3 linked regions of the Homo sapiens genome follow. The protein of the gene in region 1 interacts with the protein of each later gene in a pairwise test. Each region holds a gene or a part of one and is shown in the gene's direction. Other genes may lie near its edges.

Region 1 (7,028 bases):
AACAGCCAGTAAGTGCCTGGTCAGGACTTGAACCTGGGTTTTTCTCCAAAGTCTTGGCTCTGAAAGCTGGCCTCCTGTTCCCTCCCCCACCCCTTGTTTTTTTTTTTTTTTTTTGAGATGGAGTCTTGCTCTGTCGCCCAGGCTGGAGTACAGTAGCACTATCTGGGCTCACTGCAAGCTCTGCCTCCCGGGTTCATGCAATTCTCCTGCCTCAGCCTCCTGAGTAGCTGGGACCACAGGTGCCCACCACCACGCCTGGCTAATTTTTTGTATTTTTAGTAGAGATGGGGTTTCACCGTGTTAGCCAGGATGGTCTCAATCTCCTGACCTCGTGATCTGCCCGCCTCGGCCTCCCAAAGTGCTGGGATTACAGGCATAAGCCACCGTGCCTGGCCTCCTGTTCCCTCTTGAAGCAGATTTATGTGTATCAAAATAACAGTAGAACAGTGAAATGCTTGATTAAGGTTTATGAAATACTTTAGTATTTATTCTTTTTTTTTTTTTTTTTTTTTTTTTTTTTGAGATGGTGTCTTGCTCTGTCACCCAGGCTGGAGTGCAGTGGCGCGATCTCGGCTCACTGCAAGCTCTGCCTCCTGGGTTCACGCCATTCTCCTGCCTCAGCCTCCCGAGTAGCTGGGACTACAGGTGTGCACCACCATGCCCAGCTAATTTTTTTGTATTTTTAGTAGAGATGGGGTTTCACCATGTTAGCCAGGATGGTCTCGATCTCCTGACCTCATGATCTGCCCGCCTCGGCCTCCCAAAGTGCTAGGATTACAAGTGTGACCACTGTGCCTGGCCCTCAGCATTTATTATTCTTACAGAGAGGACATATAGTTTCTTGACCTTAGATCTGCAGGAAAATCAGTTATTGTGTTTAGAGAGAAGCTGTCAGCTTCCTTAGGCATTGTGGGGAAAGCTGTCTACATTCCACGTCAGAAAACATGAATTCACAGCCTGGTGCCATTGCCCTCATCCTTAGCCTTGAGGATGACAATCTTTCCACAAAGACTTTTTTTTTTTAAACCTCTTCCTCTGGGCCAGGTGCTTCACTAGACAGTGGCCAAGGACCTTGCGGTTTGGCTTTCTATCTGCCATGGGGGTTACAAGCACTGGTTCTGGAGTCACAGGCCTAGTTCAAACTCTGGCTCTTTCTGTGGGATCTTGGGCTCCACCTGTTTAGTTTTCTCATCTGCAAAATGGGAATGATAACAATTTCAAAGGATTGTTGTGAGGATTAAATGAGGGAATGCTTGTAACATGTGGCATGTGGTAGGTACTCAGTAAACGTAAGTGCGTTCTATACTGTAAAGTACTATGCAAATGTAAGAATGTTTTACTTGACTGTAATATAAGTATTACATTACTATGATGTGCAGTGGAAATGTTCTGTTATGCTTCTTACTTTTATCCATTATTCCTTTTGATCCATCAGAGGCCAGCAGAAATAGTAGACGAGGAAGAAGATGGAGAGAAGGCAAACAAGGATGCAGAACAGAAAGAAGACTTTTCAGGAATGAATGGTGACCTTGAAGAGGAAGGAGGTAGGGAGGCTACAGATGCCCCTGAGCAAGTCGAGGAGATTCTGGATCACAGTGAGCAGCAGGCACGCCCTGCTCGTGTAAATGGAGGCACCGATGAGGAGAATGGTGAGGAGCTGCAGCAGGTTAATAATGAGCTTCAACTGGTCCTAGACAAGGAAAGAAAGTCTCAAGGAGCTGGCAGTGGACAAGATGAGGTATTTCTATTGCTTTTGCTTGCTTATGTGAATGCATGAATATGTGTGTGTGTACATGCGTGCATTCAGAGAATTAATCAAGTGTTTAGGACTTGTATTGAAACCACTTGTGGTTGAGTAGGAAAGATCCAATACCATTTAATCCCTTTACTTACTAGTTATTTCAACCATTTAACAATACTGCCATTGACCTGACAGTTTGTGTCTGCCCTTCTGCCATTCATACATTTAGCCATTGACCCATCCATCTACTTACCTCCTGCCTAATTTTACAAGAAAATGTACAGAGCCTTCTAAGAACATACATAATCCAAGAAAGAAATATAAAAAAGTAAGAATAAGTTAAGACCAGAGAAGGTAGAAACCAAAAAAGAATATCAAGACCAGTGAGACCTAGACATGAAATAAGGAATACTTTCTCTATTATGAGTGATTTCTTTGATCTCTAGAAGTACTGAAGTTAGTTTGCTTTTTTCTACTTTAAATAGATTAATCAAATTAAGCATTCAACACATTAGGCACTTGGGTAGTATACAGTTCTATTTATTATACAGAGAGGATAAAGAAATATGTGGTGAAAATAAGAGAACAGAAAAAGTAATATCTGGTGAAATCTCTCTTTTCCTAGCCTGTTCTTCTATGTCTGATCCTGGAGTTGGATACTCATCAGTCCTGGCATTCTTCCACGGGACAATATGATCCTGTTGCTGCCAGGCTCAAGTTGAGTCTCACAGCATAAGAGGCAGGATGTTCTCCATAACATTCTCACCATCTGCTTATCCCATCCCTTCCTGTCTATCCGTCAGTTCAAGGTCCACCTCCCTCAAGGCTGTAACTGCTGAAGTGGGCCTTGGACTACTCATTCCTAATACCCACTATGATCACTGAGGTCTACTTGATTATTTATTATTGATGCATCTGATTTATCTTGCTTAGGGAAAGCAAGTTTAGCGGTGGCAAAATGCAAAATGTTCTGGTGGCCAGGTTTCAGTAACAGTACGAAGTTATCTGCAATCCACTATATGAGTTATTCAAAATGTTCTTAACATCTAAATGAAAATGCTCAGCATGTCTCTTATCTTTTCTCAAGGTGAGATAATCATAGTCCTATTCTATAAGAAATTCCCCATATTAGTTCTACATAGTCCTCAGCGTCATTTATATGGCACCTGTAATAGTAGGTTTCATACAACTCTTTGTTGTAGTAGCTTTTGATGAAAGCTTACAAAATGAAATCAAAGTGTAATTCTGTGTGGGACTAGATAGTAAGATCCAACATGATTTTTTTCCAGTGGTCTAGCTTAATTCAACATATCACATAAATAGATTTTACAGAAATGAATGGATTGCCTGTCCTTCCATCTTCCATAAATATAACTTTAAAAAATAATCCTGTAATTTGCAATGACATGAATAAACCTGGAGGACATTATGTTAAGTGAAATTAGCCAACCAAAGAAAGACACATACCATATGATCTCACTTATATGTGTAATCTAAAAACAGTTAAACTCATAGAAGTAGAAGGTAGAATGGTGGTTACCAGGGACTGAGTACAGGGTTGGAGAGATGTTGGTCAAATGATACAAAATTTCTGCGAGAAAGGAGGAATAAGTTCAAGAGATCTATTGTACAGTAAGGTGTCTAACGTATAATAACAATGTATTGTATACTTGAAAATCACTAACAGAGCAGATTTGAAGGGTTCTCACCACAAAAGATAAGTATGTGAGGTAAGGTGTATGTTAATTAACTCAAGCCATTTCACAATGGATACATATTTCAAAACATCATTTTGTATGCTATAAACATACAATTTTTATTTGCCAATTATGACAAATGAATATTTTTTTAAAGGGGAAAAATAGGCTTTTGATAGGAATTGGGCATCCGTCAAGATCAAGGTTATGTAATTTGGCATTGACCTGTGGTATGTAATGAGAGTGAATCTAAATTCTTGGGAATTCAAATAAGGAAGTGCCTAGTTTGTGATTTTTTTTTTTGAGACAACATCTAATTAGGGACTTTTTTTTTGTGACAAGGTCTCACTCTGCTACCCAGGCTGGAGTTCAGTGGCGTGATCACAGCTCACTGCAGCTTTGACCTCCCGGGCTCAAGTGATCCTCCCACTTCATCCTCCTGTGATAGCTGGGCCCACAGGTGCCACCATGCCAGGCCATATATACATATTTTTTAATATGGAGGAAGTCTCCCTCCCTGTGTTGCACAGGCTGGTTTTTAACTCCTGGACTCAAGCGATCCTCTTGCCTTGACCTCTCAAAGTGATGAGATTACAGCCACGTGCCACCATGCCCGGCCTAATTAGGGATTAGTAACAGAGCAGTTACTCACAAAGAGATTTAATCTTATTTGACTCATCTCTTACTTATAACAATGATATATTTTATCTTGTTCTCCCTAACATATTAGTATAGGTATATTTTAAGCATACCGAAATATATGAGAAACCAAATTTATGTGAATTGTAAGTTAAAAATGAATAGTTAACTTTTACAGAAGGACTGTCTACTAATAAAATGACTAGAAATTCTGTTCACCGTGTAACATTTTGTTCCATGTAACAATTCTTGTACAAAGCGAGATATGATTGTAGGAAAATACCAGGAAATACAGAGAATTTACAAGAAACAATTGACATTTATTGAGATTGAACTTGTACTATATTCAAGATACCATTTGAGACATTTCACAAAGGAACAGTGTGAAATAAGACACGGCACCAGTCATATATATATATAATTTCTTCAAAGCATCAGTCATGGCCTGTGTGGTTTGGGGAACCTGGAGCTACTCTGTCCCCCAGACTGGGTGCCCTTGTGGGGGCTGTGGAGCCTCTAGGATTTCATAGAGCAGACTTTGCAAACCTGCTGGTTCTAATCTCACCCACTCAGTTTTCAGTGTAGTCGGGGAAAGGTGAGTTGTACATGAGACAATGTCATTATTAACAGGAAAAACCCAAGTGGCAGGAGCAATAGTTGTTGTTGGAGAAATGCTGCCTCCACATTTTGATTTTCTGTCTTTTTCTTATCTACTTGCTACTTGATGGTACTTGGTACCATATTCACAACGAATTTGTGAATTCTAGGAGGAAACTAAAATTAGGAGAATGTCCCTGAATTTTTTCTTCCTTTGTCTCTGAAAATGCTAAACTGAAAAGTATAACTAAATTGAAGAAAAGCTCAAAGAGAAATCAAGAAAAAATGAGAAAAATAAAGCCTGCAGCATACAAAATGAGTCAGGGCCTTTCAAGCACTAGTAGATTATGAACCCCAAAAGGACTTTTGTACAAGTGTTGAGAAAACAGTATGTCCACTGGGTAATGATAGACAAAAAAACAAAGGGAACCCCAGGAACTCTTTTTAGTTAAATATTTATATAATTAAATAGAATCTTGAGTAATTTTTTCTTTATAAATGTCATTACCTTTGTGAACCAAACAGCTGAATACCTTTGTTTTGATCTATTTTCTTCTAGGCTGATGTAGACCCTCAAAGACCACCAAGGCCAGAAGTAAAAATTACCAGTCCAGAAGAAAATGAAAACAACCAACAAAACAAGGACTATGCTGCCGTGGCTTAGAACATTTTTAAAAAGAGAGTATATGGATCGCAAGAAAAATGAAGGGTTATCATACTTGAAAGATAAGCACATAGTTATTGCTGAATATAATGTGACACTATGGTCGAATACTACCTACGAATTATAACATTAGAAGCCTAGTGGAAAGACCAGATAACTTTAAATGGCTACTAAAGGATAATTACTTACTTTTATTGCATGTGTTTTAAAAGTCATATAGAAATATTAAATAAGACGGACAGAGGAGAATTTGCACTGGAAGACAATTGCCACTTGTAAAGGATGAAAAATAGGATCACTCTTATTGTACGCTTTATTATAAGTTTAGAAGGCAGTTTATTCTAAATAATTTTTCTCTAGGAAGGCGTAGAATTTTAAAGAACTGGTAATAGGAAAGCATGTACTATTTTCTTAAAGCAATAAACTCTTGAATGAACAGATTGCGATTTACTTTCAGACATAATTTGGAGATGGCAGTAGATCAAAATGTGTCCATGACTTGTTAACATGCCTTTCTTTCTTCCTCCTTAGCCAAAATCCACCTTTGAACTACAAAGACAGAGCAAGGCGTTCATTTTGGTGGGAGGAAGCATTGGTTCAGAGTGTTAGTGACTAGTATCGCCATGCCGTCACTTAAATGCTTTCAGGCTTGCATGCTTGTGGCTCCAATGGCGCACACTCAGGAAGGAATTGTAAAGGAGCACCCAGTTATATTATAAAGCCTGGATGTATGGTTTGCAGATAATGGAAATCCTGTGGATTTTCACTGATCCAGTCTATCTTTACCAATAGTATCTCTCTCTTCTCCCTTATGTTATTAGAGAACCTGATATTGGCTATTCCAAAGATTAAATTATTTTCAAATAGTTTTCAACAAAAATAAAAGTGTATTAGGAAGAAAAAAGTAGACTATATGAAGAGTTTGTGACTGCTCAATTTAACTTGTTTTTTGCCTTATTTCTATTAAGACTGTTTTACTATGTTTTTGCCCTAGGGATATCAGCAAATATTTATTTTTCCTAGCATGATATAGTTAGAATTTCAAGCAGATTTCTTTGTAATTAGAAGGCATCTGATAGAAATTGTAAAACTTTAGAAGTTATTATAATGAAACCAATTCCTGAATCACAACTTCATGGACTGACTAAATTGATTTATAGTTGCCTTGTGAGGTATGTATGGGGAAAACATAAAAACATAATTAAAACATAATTTCGTCCTTTTTATGAATTCTTAAGAGATGTTCTTCCATAAATATAGAAATAATATATTTTTCTTAAAGGATATATTTTTAATTATGTGGAAGTTGTAAGCTTGAAATTTTAACTTCTAGTGCTTTTCTAAAATTCACAATTACAAGTTTAAAACATTTTTTCTCTTCCAGGTTTCATTTGGAATAAAGAGTTGGCAGTTATATAAAGCACTTAATAATACTATAGAAAATAGATGTGTTTTTTCTTAATATGATTTTGGTATTTTCCACAGATCAGAAGTGTAAACAGAGAGATAATGTAACAGTATTTGGAAGAGATAATGACACAAGGATATAGTGATCTGGGAGCATGAATTAGAAACAGGGTACTATGTTTCTGGTGTAAAATCTAAATTGTGCTTTCTACTAGCGTTACTTTTTCAAATGGGATGATATAAAGCACTGTGGGCTATAAGCAACAATCTTGGGTTGGTAGGC
Region 2 (7,028 bases), on another chromosome or scaffold:
AGGCACAGTAAATTACAAGAGCTCTGCCCTTTGATATCGAATCTCTGTGAGCGAAGATGTAACCAGAACAGTGTAAATCTAGAATTACTTTCCTTACGGTATGCAATATCTAATTATTATGTATTAGTTTACATATATATAGGGGATGTAAGAATCTTTATATTTAAAGGATAAGAAACTTGATCAGGTGAGATACAAGATTTGAATAAAAAAGCGATTTTTTAGAAACATTTTAATTCTACAAATTCAGTTGCTGGCTTTGATATGTAACTTATTCAGATTTCTCTTCCATAGAAGGCTTTAACACTAGAAGCCAGTTCTCTACAAAAGAGAATGTTCTACCAAGTGTGTAGGCAACAAAGCCCAAAAGTTCAAGTTCAAAATACTGTTCTACAGCCTAAGATCCACCTAATATTTCAGATTTGACTCTTTTGCTCCTTTCCTATAACTTCCTATAACTTTTTCATAGTGCTCTAAGCAAAGTAAGTTCAAGGATGGACTCACCTCAAGTTTCCTTCTCTTACTTTAGAGGACCATATAATCTTATACCTGTGTCATCCTAATTGAAATGTATTTTAAGTGCTTGTGGGAACAAGAATAACGGAAGACCGTTATTCCATTAATGGAATAATGGGGAACATGAGAAGGACCATATTCAGTCAATTAGGGATGATACTTCTGCCTCAACAGTATTTGCGATGTGTTAAATGGCCCTTAGCCATCAGATCAGTATTTTTAAAAACTCCTACCTAATTAATGTTTTTTGAGAAGAAGCATATTATGAGTATAGCTCAGTATTCTAAAAAGAAAAAAACCTGAAAAAAAAATCAGCCATCCATTAACTAACCCATCCTGGTAAAGCTACACAAACAGATTCTAGAGAAAGGAAATTTGCACAGATGGAACATCTAATCTGGACTGACATTGTCAACAAGTTATCTCAAATGATCCTGAGAAAACACTGGTACATGGTTTAGAGACAAGTCGAGCTCATGTGACTAGTAAATGGAGAGGCACAGTATACATCTACTTTTGTTGGCATTTAAACACTCTCGGCTTTTTTACTCTCTTTCACCACCATCAGGTCCAGATTCCAGCTTGCACTGGAATATTTATTGACCCTTTGATAGAAGAGCTACACCTGAAACATCTCTGAAGTCTTTTTAGCATCCTATCCTGCCCATGGCCTACTACACAGTATGTGATAAGTTAATGTTTGTTGAATTAGTTAAATATACGTATTAACCTACTTTCAGGGCTGCCCGCTGTAATGCCTAGAATAGGGCAGGCACTTAATAAATGGTAGTTAACTTAGACTAAATGTTGATCCACCAAGACAGAAACATGTTACATATACCTCTTGTTTTACACCATCTTCTACTTTTTGTACCTCTGTGTTATAAACCCTCTATCAAGTGTTGCTTCTAAAGACAATGTCCAGAATGGGACGTAGGAACTGCCACTGGGCAACAGGCAGACACTGGGTTATATCGTCATCCTGTTTCTGAATCCTGGTTTTTCTTATTATTATTCAACCACAGCTAAACTTTCTGATCTCCTTTTTTCCGTTTTTTCCCTTTACCCTAACTTCTAGCCAAACTAAGTGATTTGACATTTCCCCACTCAAGCCACAACTTTTTCTCTTATGTGCTTAAAAAAAATTCCTGCGTAGTCTCTCTTGGAATGTCTTATTCCTTGCTCCCTCCACTTCACCCTTTTTTTTTTTTTTTTTTTTTTTTTTTGAGACGGAGTCTCGCTCTGTTGCCCAGGCTGGAGTGCAATGGTGCCATCTCGGCTCACCGCAACCTCCGCCTCCTGGGTTCAAGCGATTCTCCTGCTTCAGCCTCCCGAGTAGCTGGGATTACAGGCATGCTCCACCACACCCAGCTAATTTTTGTGTTTTTAGTAGAGATGGGGTTTCACCATGTTAGCCAGGATGGTCTTGATCTCCCGACCTCCTGATCCGCCCGCCTCGGCCTCCCAAAGTGCTGGGATTACAGGCATGAGCCACCGCACCCGGCCCACTTCACCCTTTAAGCCAGTTGAAATGCTCCTTGCCCTACTCCTCCCTTCTCCTTTTCTTTCTCCCATCCAAGTACTAACCAGGCCCAACCCTGCTTAGCTTCTGAGATCAGCCAGGATCAGGTGCATTCAGCGGGGTATGGCTGTAGACTTCTCTTTCTGAGCTGTGTCTTCCTCCTTTCCTCCCCAAACCCACATTTGAATTCTGTTCTAGCTCCTGCTCATTTGCCACCTCTCCCACAAAGCCTTCCCCAGTTTCCATCTTCTCCCTGCTTCCCTCATCTCAGAGGAAAGCTCTTCATTCACAGAGCACCTGGTTTGGGGTCCATAGTTTGTTGTCCCTCAGTATCCTTGGGGAATTAGTCCCAGGACACCACCCCCCCGCCCCTGATATCCATGCATGCTCAAGTCCCTTATATAAAATGGTACAGCATTTATATTATAACCTATGCAATATTCCCATGTACTCTTTTTTTTTATTTTTATGTGTTTAGAGATGGGTCTCACTCTGTTGTCCAGGCTAGAGTGCAGAGGCATGTAGCCTTGAGCTCCTGAGTCAAATGATCCTCCTGCCTCCGCCTCCCAAGTAGTTGGGATTACAAGTATGAGCTACCACACCTGGCCCATGTACTTTAAATCATCTCTAGATTACTTATAATAACTAATGCAATATAAATGCTATGTAAACAATTGTTACACGGTATTGTTTAGTGCATAATGACAAGAAAAAAATGTGCATGTTCAGTACAGACACGACCATAAATTTTTTTTTCAAATGTTTTTGATCTGTAGTTGGTTGAATCTGAGGATGCGGAACCCATGAACGTACACGACCAACTGCATATGGGTTTCTAATAACAGATTTGTGGATGAAGCCCACCCAACATAATGCAACATTTCAAATGTATCTTAGTCAGTTTTTCTGGGGCAAAGCCAGCCTAACAAATCTCAAGAATGTTTGAAAAATTCTAGCTTGAGTGAACGTTGTTCTTCTAGTGACTCAAATAAAGCAGTCATTGTGTCTGAGGAGTCCTAGTGGGGTGGCAGGGGTGGGGCTAGGAGTAGTGGCTGTTTGTAGCATGTTTTATATCACATTAAAGGGCTGGGTATGCATTTTAGGCAATAATTCTTACTCTTATTGATAGGAGAACTTGTATTTTTTATTCATCTACCTTATGATGGATAACTGGTTTACATCTCTTCATCAGGTTTACTTCTTACGTGTCATTTTATGAGCTGACTTTGAATATATCTTCAGATTTTCCCTGCCTTTACACATGAAAACGGTTTTGATACAGCTTTTTCATTAGAGAATGGCAGCTTTTCCAGGCCAGGGTGTCTGTGTCTGACTCCTCGCCTTTCATTTTACCCAATACTTGCTTAAAACATCCTCCCTGAGTCCGGTACTTTTTTGCCTCCTCTCCTTCCTTCCACCCCACCTCTTTTTGTCACCCTCCTGCGACTTTGGATCTCCATCCTTGGAGTCCCTGAATCTTTTTTGTGGTTGAAAGACTACACCCAAAGGACACAGACTGATGAGGTCACTTCTGCCCACTGTCTAGTACTAGTGAGACCAAGAAGAAGAAGGAGGGAAAACTGAAATGGAAGGTTTGAAAAAGAGTGTGTTAGTGAAGGAAGTAAGAACAGTGCTAACAGAATGCAGCAAAACAGAAATGACTTCACACTTCTGGCAGTGAAGCAAATTCTCATCCATCTTGGGTTGCTTCTCTTGACCCTGCCCACCTCCTCCCCTGCCCTCCCCTCCCGATGAGAACTGCAGGAACACCTGTGCCCATGCCAAGGAAAAAGGGCAGGTGAGGAACACAGGGATGGGGCTGGGACTCACAAGCTGCTCTAAGCTGCCACAGGGTCTGGAATTTGTTGACATTACATGGTTAACTCGGTATCTCGATGCCTCAGTATCTTCTGCAAAATGTGGAGGGAGATCCTTTCTTCCTCAAAGGTTGTTGTAAGGCTTAAAGAGCTACCACATTCGTAAGGCATTTGGAACAGGGCCTGGTATATAGTAGACATACCCATGGTAGTAACTGTTGCTAGACTGGGTAAAAGGAGAAGTTTCTTAAGTAGGCAAGAAAAAAACTGACAACAGTTATATTTAAAAGAGCAAGCAACCGTGTCAGCCCAAACAAGTGTGTTGCAAGAATGAGCACAGAGGGCCAAGCTCAGAAAAGCGAGTGTTTGACCTCTCTGAGACCTCCTTTATATGTCAGCTTTTTTATTTGTTTCAAATTTTGCATAATCAAACTGGTTACTGGGAATTATTGAGTTCATATAACTTCCCTAAAATCTAAGAATAATCTATAATCCCATGCCACCAGTCCCGTTAATAAAGACTTAGGGTCTGTCTTTACCCATTTGTTCATTTGAAATTCCCCGTCTTTACTTCCCCCATAACCAGGAAACAGATCTACACCCATGTTTAACTTATAAAGAGATATAAGTGAGTTTACATAGGTGGAGATCTTGTACCTGGATTCACATTGTAGGTTTTATTACCCAGCTTTCCCCTCTATCCCAAAGCCATGATTGCCATAGTGGAATTTAAAGTCTTTGGACTAACACTGAATCAAGAACTAACTCTACAAATGTATTCTCTGCAGGAGGATAAGAATTCCAAATGGCTTCTAATTGTTGCCCATGGCTTGAAATAAAGTTCCATATAGCTAAAGCCCCAGCACAAAAACACTTGAAGACAGCCATTAGGTAGAATTTCTTTTCTTTTTTAGAGGTCTTATATTGGAAATGTAACAGTTGCAAAGATATCTAATGTTTCACCTTAAAATGTGAGTTATAAATTCACATTTCACATTGCCTCCTTCCTCCTTGAGCAAACAGACTAGGCAATTAGTACCAAATAGTAACTAGTTATATTTCTTAACACCGATTATTGTAAGTAATTTATTAAGAAAAAATCTAGGAAGATCAAATTATAGCTTTTCCAGTAAATCTGGGGCTTTTTATTCCTGATCTCTCTCAACAAGGCAGTTTGGCTTCTGAAGATTGGTCCTAGCTATACTTAACAGGAAACAGATGACGAGAAGAAGCCAGGAAAAAATACTTGGAATATAGAACAAAATGCAGCATAAAGATGGTACAGAAGATTTTATCTTTCTTTCCTTTAGTTATGTGTGGACAGGAACTAAAAACTCTCCCACGTGGGACTTTATTAAGTAATAAAAGTTTAAATGTAAAAGATATAAAGGAATGAGGATATAAAGGAAATTTTTTTAAAAACTGTGACTCACCGGAGGAGCCTTATATAGTCTACTTTCTAAGCATATCACTTTTAAAGGGATCATTATATTTTCATGATGCATGGGGATATTCCAAGTATTAAATTGATTTTTTAAATGAAGAAAATTATCAGTTCAGTCTTGTTTTCTATGTAGGTTTCACTACAGTATTTTATTTCCCCCGCAAGGAAAAAACCAGAGCTAGAATGGAATGATTAAATTTCTTAGTTTTCTTCTAATCTGTTAGTCTTTCCATTAAATTATACTGCCTTCTTATATAGAATTTCTGGGTTTGTTCTTGTTTTGGCAATAATTGAAGTAAGAGAGGATGATTTTATGGTAGAGGTTTGATTCCATTCTAGATTGGTGTTTTTCAGCTATGTAGAACACAATCCATTCATGGTTCAGACAACCGTTTTAGGAGGTTTTCATGTCCAGCATTAAAAAAAAAAAAAAAAGAATAGAATTGGGCATTCATATATATATATATATATGAATATTTATTAATAAAAGTTTAAAAGATATAAAGGAATGAGGAATGCATATATATTATATATATATATACCAAATTAAAGTATCATAATACTAATACAAGGATTAGTATCGTTTTATGATACTTTATTATATACACTAAGGGTTAGTCTTGTTTTATGATACTTTATTATATACACTAAGGGTTAGTCTTGTTTTATGATACTTTATTATATACACTAAGGGTTAGTCTTGTTTTATGATACTTTAGGTTGGTATACATACATATACTAAGAATGCAGACATGTCCATGGAAGTTGGCAATATTCAGCCCCCAGCAGGCCCCAGTCAGCAGGACAGGGATTAGGGGAGTCAGGTGAGGCAGGGCTGTATAAGTGCAGGGTTGGAGCCTGTCTTGGTTTACCGTTTTGACATTTTGTTCACTGTGGATTTTTTTCAGTAACTTTGATTTTTTAAAAATATTGCATCAAAATATTATACTGACTACGGAGTTTTTGGTACCCCCTTAAATTGTGCACCTAAAATAAGTGGCTCCCTTGTCTCCCCCTAGTCCCGGCCCGATCAGTATGTTTTATAGAGGGAATGGTGAGTGTTGGGGAACTAGGGAGCCCATGAGGAGGCGGCCCAGAAGGGGAGGAGGAGCTGATGGTGTGTCTGATGTCTCCTCCTTTCTCTAGGAAGCAGACAGGAGGTGAAGTCTTCAGGGTGGGGGGGACAGAGCCTGGGAGGGGGAGATTTAGCATGGCCGCTGAAGAGACTGGGAAAGGGAGAAGGTTCGGGACAAGTTCAGGAACAGTCACGTAGCACTGAAAACTGCTCAAAGCTAGATAGTGCCATTTGTGGTGACGCTGCCTGCCTGGTAAGTCCCATTTCCCCAGCAGCCCTGGAGGTGTCATAGGAACAGGAAGATGGGAGGGCGCTGGGGTCTGGGGTTGTTGGGGTGGGAGGGCAAAGGTGTCCAATGATTCTGCATCTGAAACGGGGGAGGTGTGTGAGGAAGAAAGGTCAGGAGACTGCTGGGCAGGGTGGGGTGGCAGAAGGTTCTCGATGAATATTTAGAAGTTGCAGCTGAGGAGTGAGTGTACTATAGAGTGAGTATCCTGGAATTTGAGGTCTCAGAAGAAATGCAGTTCTCAGTGAAGCCATGTAAACAACTTCCTGGCTGATAAGGTGTCTTGAGTGTTGGGAGATCACATGATCAAAATGGTATACACACCATAAGGTGTCCTTAGACTTGAGTGTGGTGTAAGTCTACTGAAT
Region 3 (7,028 bases), about 150 Mb from region 1:
GAGACACAGAAGCCTGACAGATGATCACAAGAAGAGATTTATTTATGTGAGGGACTTCTACTCGCAGCCAATATGGAGTAATTCTTATCAGAAACTACTTAAAGTAACACACAAAAATGTATGGAACAATTGTTTCCATTGATTTAGGTGTCAGGCAGGACGAGAGTGATTTCCAAGAGATGAGAAATAGGTAAGGTGAACCCCAATATTGCCCCCACCTTAATTGCCTGGTGAGAGTTTCCAGGCTACAACACAAGGAAAGGCCTCCTTTATTTCAAAAGGAGTTAGGAGCCTGGGAAGCCAAGGTAGCATGAGACTGGAGAGCAGAGTATTAAGACAGGGATGCACAAACCGCCCCAAAGACCTACAGAGGGTTTCCCAGAATATTCAGCTGAGTGCAGCAGTGCATCTGGTGAGGAAGCTTCTCACCAAAGGTGGAGAGTGGAGGTGGAGAAAGAATCACCCAAAAGGAACAGAAAAAAAATCCTTGGACATGTTCCCACCAGAAAAAGTGGAAAATCATGAAAAATACAGGGCTTTGGTTAGCGTGCTAAGACGTGTATTGCCTCAGTAGTGGGAAAAAATAGAGAACAAGTTCTCTGATCTGGCTTATCAAGGTTGAGAAGCAAGGCTAAAGAGGATTAAACTGTTTCCAAATGTCTTTGTTCTAGAAGAAAGCTCAAGAGTCTTAGGAATACAAAAATATCCAGCCTATAAGAAGGTAAAATTCACACTGTCTGGTCTTTAAATATTAATAGACCTACAGAAAAGCACGAAAATAAAGTTCAAAATTGAAGAAGCAGTAAAAACAGCCCAGAAATTACACAAAAATAGAATTAGTATAAACAGACATTAAAGTAGTTAAGAGAGTTATTAGTTTTCGTCAAATTTAATCATATGAAGTTATTATAATTACATTCCATATATTTAAGAGTGTAGAGAAAGACTGAGCATGTTAAATTCAAATTGAACTTCTGTAGATGAAAAATACTATGTCAGGGATGAAAATACACTAAATGGTATTAACAGCAGATTCAACAGTGCAGAAGAAAGGACATTTAGAGATGTGGAAATTGGGGGGGATGCTGAAAAAATATTACACGATGTCAATGAGCTTTGACAGAACTTAAAGTTGCCTAACGTTCTTATAATTTGAGTCCCCAAAGAGGTGAGAGAGGACAGACAAAAAGTACTGGAAGAAATAAGGAATGAGAAATTTTCAAATCTGTTGAAAACTATAAACCCACAAATCTAAGAGGCTCAGTGAACTCCAAGCACAAGACACATGAAGAAAATTATGCCAAGACATAGAATAATAAAATTGCTTGAAACCAGTGACTTAAAAATTTAAAGGCAACTAGAACAAAGGAACGTTACACACATAGAAACAGACAAAATGACAGCATACTTCTCAGAAACAATGCAAGACAGAAGACATCGAAGCATCATCTTTAAGGATTGAAAGAAAATGACTAACAACCTAGAATTCTATACTCAGCTAAAATATCGTTCAAAAAGCAAAGGTAAGACTTCCAGCTTCCTTAAAGTCCCTACTATGTCCTAACAAGTAAAAAGCTGAACAAACTGAAAAAAGTGAGGTCACAGGACAAACTGCTGCCCCCAAAAGTAGATTAACAAGCAGCAGTTTGCTCTGTGACCTCACTCCAGCCCTCCTTAGCCATCCTGTGTGACTTAAGCAAGTAGGGAAAAAAACAAAAAACTCAGAAACATATGTGAAGTTCACAGTCCAGAAGCACAGGTTCACTAAAATACCTAGTCATACAACTACAGAATGCTTCCTCTCCGTTAATACATTACCAGCACATTGCCAGAGGCCTTGTTAACAGCAGTTTCTTTACCTGGTGAATCATGTCTGGCTATCAGGAAAAAAATTAGGCATACTAAAAACAACAACAAACACACAGAGTGAGCAGCAGAACCAGACATGGCAGGGATGTTGGAATTATCACAATTTAAGTAACTATGATTAATATGTTAAAGGGCTGTAGTTGACAAAATAGCATGCAAGAACGGATGAGCAATGTAAGCATAGAAATGGAAATCCTAAGAAAGAACTAGAAATGCTACACATCAAAAAACACTGTTACAAAAGAAGAAATCTCAAATTTAAAAAATATTTTGAGCTAAATAAAAATGAAAACATACCAAAATTTGTAGAGTGCAGCAAAAATGGGTTGGAAGGAAATGTATAGTATTGAATGTGTGCATATATTAGAAAAGAAGAAAGAGCTAAAATAAGCCTCAAAGAAACTAGAAAAAGAAGAACAAATTAAATCCAAGAAGAAAAGAAATAATAAAAATTATAGCAGAAATTGATGAAATTGAAATCAGGTACCAACAAAACCAAAAGCTTTTTCTTTGAAAAGATCAATAAAATCTATAAGCCTCTATGCAGGCTAAGAAAGAGAGGACACACATTACTAATAGCAGAAATGCAAGTCAGGATATTGCTAGAAATTACATGAACACTATAAATATAATGAAAGAATATTATGAACAATTCTGTGCCCAGAAATTTGATAACCTAGATGAAATGGACCAGTTCCTTGAAAGATGCAATTTCCCAAAAGTCATACAAAAAGAAATAGATAATCTGAATAAGCATATATCTGTTTTTAAAACTTGAATCAATAACAGCCTTCCAAAGCAGAAATCACCAGGTTCAGGTGATTTCCTTGGTGAATTCTACCAAGCATTTAAGGAAAAAGTTATATCAATTATTACAATCTCTTTCAGAAGATAAAAGCAGAGAGAATACTGTCTAACTCATTCTGTGAAGTCAGCATTACCCTAATACCAAAGGCAGACAAAGATGCTACAAAAAAAGCAAATTACAGACCTGTATCATGTATTAACACTGATGCAAAAATTCTAAACGAAATACTAGCAAACTGAATTCAGCATTTTATTTAAAGGATTTGACACCGAGGCCAAGTGAAATTTGTTCCTGGAATGCAAGGATGGTCCAACATATGAAAATCGATCAAGGTAATACACCACATTAACTAAATGAAATAAACCACATGATAAATCTCAATTGATGAAGAAAACTATATGTCAAATTCAACACTCTTTTATTATAAAAACACCCCAAAAACTAGAAATAGGAGGAAACTACTTCAACCTAATAAAAGCTCTATATGAAAACTGCACAGCAAATGCTGGGTGCAGTGGCTCATGTCTGTAATCCTAGCATTTTGGGAGGCCAAGGCAGGTGGATCACGAGGTCAGGAGATCAAGACCATACTGGCTAACATGGTGAAACCCCGTCTCTACTAAAAATACAACAACAACAAAAAAATTAGTTGGGAGTGGTGGCATGCACCTGTAGTCCCAGCTACTCAGGAGGCTGAGGCAGAAGAATAACTTCAACCTAGGAGGCAGAGGTTGCAGTGAGCCAAGATCGCGCCACTGCACTCCAGCCTGGGCGACTGAGCAAGACTGTCTCAAAAAAAAAAACAAACAAAAAAAACTTCACAGCAAACATCATACTCGATGGGGAAACACTGAAAGCTTTTCCTGTAATATTAGTAACAAAGCAAGGATGTCCACTTTTGCCACTTCTTTTCAACATAGAGCTGGAAGTTCTAGCCAAGCAATTAGGCAAGAAAAAGAAATTCCTGGCTATTAATAAAATGAAGCTTACTGCTTTAACTTAAGAGGTTAGAGCATTTATCTGGGACATATTGGGCACTAAGCAAATATTTCATTAATGCATATTGGATGTCACAGAATGGATGTTTCATGTCAAAAGCATGAACTGATATATATATCAAATCAATGCTCTTTTGGTGTCTTTTCACCTTAAGACTTACGAATGTGCTATCTAAATAATTGTATTATTTAAAAATAAGTAAATGAAGTAAAATAAAATTTTAAGACAATGAAGGATAATATTTTCATAATCTCAGGGTAGGGAGGAAGAAAGGTTTTCCCTATATCTCCATCCCATAGCCACTCAGTTGCCCTCCCTGGAGGCCACTCTTGTTTCTAGTTCCTTTGGATCATCCATGGATATTCTAAATATATGCATGCAATTTGTATGTATATGTTTGTGAGTATAGATAAAAGAATAAATAGTATTCCTATTTTTTTTTGCCAAATTGATAGCCAGGAGTGAATCTAGGATTTAGCAACCACATTATTGTAGAAATCTGTTTAACAAATTTCCAAGCTTTGTGTGAGCCCTGTCCCACTGTACAGGCTTATTTAATCTGAAAACTCATTTACAGTTTAAAAAGTAATCTTTCTGCCTTTCTCTCTTCCCCTCTCTCTTTCTCCTCCAGTATACACAGATTTTAAGAGAAAGACTGAGAGAGTCAATTCACAATGTTCAGTATGTGGAGCCTCCTTTTGATGACTCAATTGCTGATATAGGTAAAGAATGGAAGAGTGCCCTGGCAAAATTAAAGTTTGCTAATTCATATAGAATGGAGCCATTGAAGAAATTCCAAGCTCATTCAGTAGAAACTAAAGTCCAGCAGATACTAACAGTAGGTTGATAAATATATATGATAGCAGTATTGTATGAGGGTTCTACAGAGAAACAGAAATTATATATACGAAGAAATTTATTCCAGGAATTGGCTCATACAATTGTCACTAGAACCAGAAGGTATTGTGTCATTGGTGCAGGCACAACAAGTTAGTTAATCAGAGATGTGTAGTCTGTCTGCTAGGTGTCCAGTTCTGCTCCTGGTTTGTAAGAGTAATGCTTTATAGTCCACAAGCCATGTCCATTTCCTTCAAGCTATACATTAATTTATTAATAAACATGGTTAGAAATCTTTGATTTCATTTTCCTGGAGGCCAGAGAAAAATTAGTGGAGTGAGAGACTAGAGGGGAGGGCTGGAAAGAAGTAGTTTTAATATGAGCCCACTGAGCAGGGCAGTGACTTGGTACAGGTTCTGAGTCCAAGTAATCTTCAGTATAAGAAAACCAAAATCTGAATTTTAATAAATGTATAAATTTAAAAAGGTTTCTTTCCTTTACCTAAGAATTTCCTTTACCTTCTAGAAGTCTTCTTTAGAAAATCTCCTTGTGTCTATTAACTGTTTGGCAGAGTAGTCTAGTAAATTACAACTTACAGCTTGTATCGCTAATGAAAAGTAATTGAATATAATTTGAAAACCCCAATAAATATTCCTCAAAATTGTTACTGAAATAGGTAAGCATAAAATTTATTTAATATTATTTAGTTAGGAATATATTTATTTTAAAACAGTTATATATATATTATTTAGACATGTTTTCTACTTGAATTTTTATATAGAAAATATTTGGTTTGAAAATAAAAGTATTTTTCTTAAATTTTCTTAAAGGAAAGTCTTAAAGATGTCAAATATGATGATAAAGTATTCTCTCACTTGTCACTTGAATTGGCAGACCGCATACTGTTAGCAGTCAAAGAATTTGGGTACCACCGTTATAAGTTCATTATAAAAGTATTATTTATTCAAAAGACTGGCCAAGCAATAAATGTAAGTACCCCATTGATACAGGATCTAGCAATTAGAACTATAAGGCATCTCCTCCCTAGTGATTTGATTTTTATTGTGATGACTCAAGGGCATGCCATAGATTCTGAGGTACTTTTTGAAGGAAAGTATCATGTTGTTAAGTATATTTATTTCACTGTAAATTATTTGAAAAGTACAAACCAGCTGGGTTCGTTGGCTCATGCCTGTAATCCCAGTAGTTTGGGAGGCTGAGGCAGGTGGATCACCTGAGGTCAGGAGTTTGAGACCAGCCTGGCTAACATGGTGAAACCCCGTCTCTACTAAAAATACAAAAATTAGCTGGGCATGGTGGTGGGTGCCTGTATTCCCAGCTACTCGGGAGGCTAAGGCAGGAGACTCACTTGAGACTGGGAAGCAGAGGTTGCAGTGGCCCGAGTTCGCTCCACTGCACTCCAGCCTGGGCAACAGACTCAAAAAAAAAGAAAGAAAAGTACAAACCTAGAAGTAGCAATTTGGTACTACTAATTTATTAAATTGCACTGCTATTCTGTTCCTTGATCATATCAATTTTGACAGTTTAATGTCATTTAAGTTAACCAGTAAATTTATTTTGGGCACTAATAGGTGTTAGGTACTAAGGAAAATCAAGGAATGATAAAACACGGACCATGATTCTCAAGGAGATTTTACTCTACTTAAGGAGATAAAGCAGCACAATTTAGAATTCAGGGAAATAAAATGATAGGGATAATGTAAACAGCCTGGGTTTTGGAGTCAGATTGCCTCTGCCACACTTGCTGGCTGTGGCCTTGGCACAGTTTCTTCATCTATAAAATGGTGATGATAAAACTGGCTTCCTAGAGCTGTTGTGAAGATTAAATGAAATTATCTGTATTAAAATCCTTAACATAATCACCAGCACAGAGCCCTCAATAAACAGCAAGGTAATTATAAACATTATTTATTAATAAAGAGATAATATCACTAGGCTGTGTAATTATGTAAGGAGTTGGTAAGGAATATGTGGGAGTTGGAGAGAAAAGAGAGAAAAAGCTGTGTTTGGAAGAATCTGTAGAGGTTCCATAGAGGAGTGGACTGCATGATGAAGCATGGGGAGGGGGACCTGGACTGGCAGAGGGGTACTGGCGAGAGAACCGCCAGTCAGCAAGAAAGAACCGTCCTGGCTCCCATGGAGAAGAGAAGCTGCACCACATATGACATACAGACTTAAGAAATAGGGACGTTGTAGATGATAAGTGCTACAAAGAGAACATTAAGGTAGGGATATGACAGAGTAGCAGAGTGGCTACTTGGGATTGTTTAGAGAAGGGAGAACCCTCTGATGTTCAGATAAGAAGGAACCAGCTGTACCAAAGAGAAGGGAGAATGTTCCAAGCAGAGAAAACTTCAAGTGCAAAGATCCTGAGGCAGGGATGACTTGGAGTGCTTGATATGTAACAAGTGTAGCTGGACTAGTAGCTAGTAGATAGTGGCATGATGTGCAGTGGGGGAATGTTTCAGCTTATATTATTGTATAACAAACCACC

What was found. Proteins that work in one complex are often made in the same cells at the same time.
Region 2: the proteins of DCDC2 (region 1) and B3GNT5 interact in binary tests that used the Homo sapiens proteins (3 or more experiments, as listed by UniProt).
Region 3: the proteins of DCDC2 (region 1) and DYNLT2 interact in binary tests that used the Homo sapiens proteins (3 or more experiments, as listed by UniProt).

The regions. Positions count from the first base shown.
Region 1 is NC_000006.12:24,173,040-24,180,067, reverse strand, and holds part of DCDC2 (doublecortin domain-containing protein 2), read left to right. Parts: intron 1-1,435; coding exon 1,436-1,738; intron 1,739-5,233; coding exon 5,234-5,338; 3' UTR 5,339-7,028. UniProt on the Homo sapiens protein: Protein that plays a role in the inhibition of canonical Wnt signaling pathway. May be involved in neuronal migration during development of the cerebral neocortex. Involved in the control of ciliogenesis and ciliary length.
Region 2 is NC_000003.12:183,256,244-183,263,271, forward strand, and holds part of B3GNT5 (lactosylceramide 1,3-N-acetyl-beta-D-glucosaminyltransferase), read left to right. Parts: intron 1-1,084; exon of another isoform or gene 1,085-1,197; intron 1,198-2,814; exon of another isoform or gene 2,815-7,028. UniProt on the Homo sapiens protein: Beta-1,3-N-acetylglucosaminyltransferase that plays a key role in the synthesis of lacto- or neolacto-series carbohydrate chains on glycolipids, notably by participating in biosynthesis of HNK-1 and Lewis X carbohydrate structures.
Region 3 is NC_000006.12:169,741,554-169,748,581, reverse strand, and holds part of DYNLT2 (dynein light chain Tctex-type protein 2), read left to right. Parts: intron 1-4,307; coding exon 4,308-4,514; intron 4,515-5,343; coding exon 5,344-5,502; intron 5,503-7,028. UniProt on the Homo sapiens protein: May be an accessory component of axonemal dynein and cytoplasmic dynein 1. Candidate for involvement in male sterility.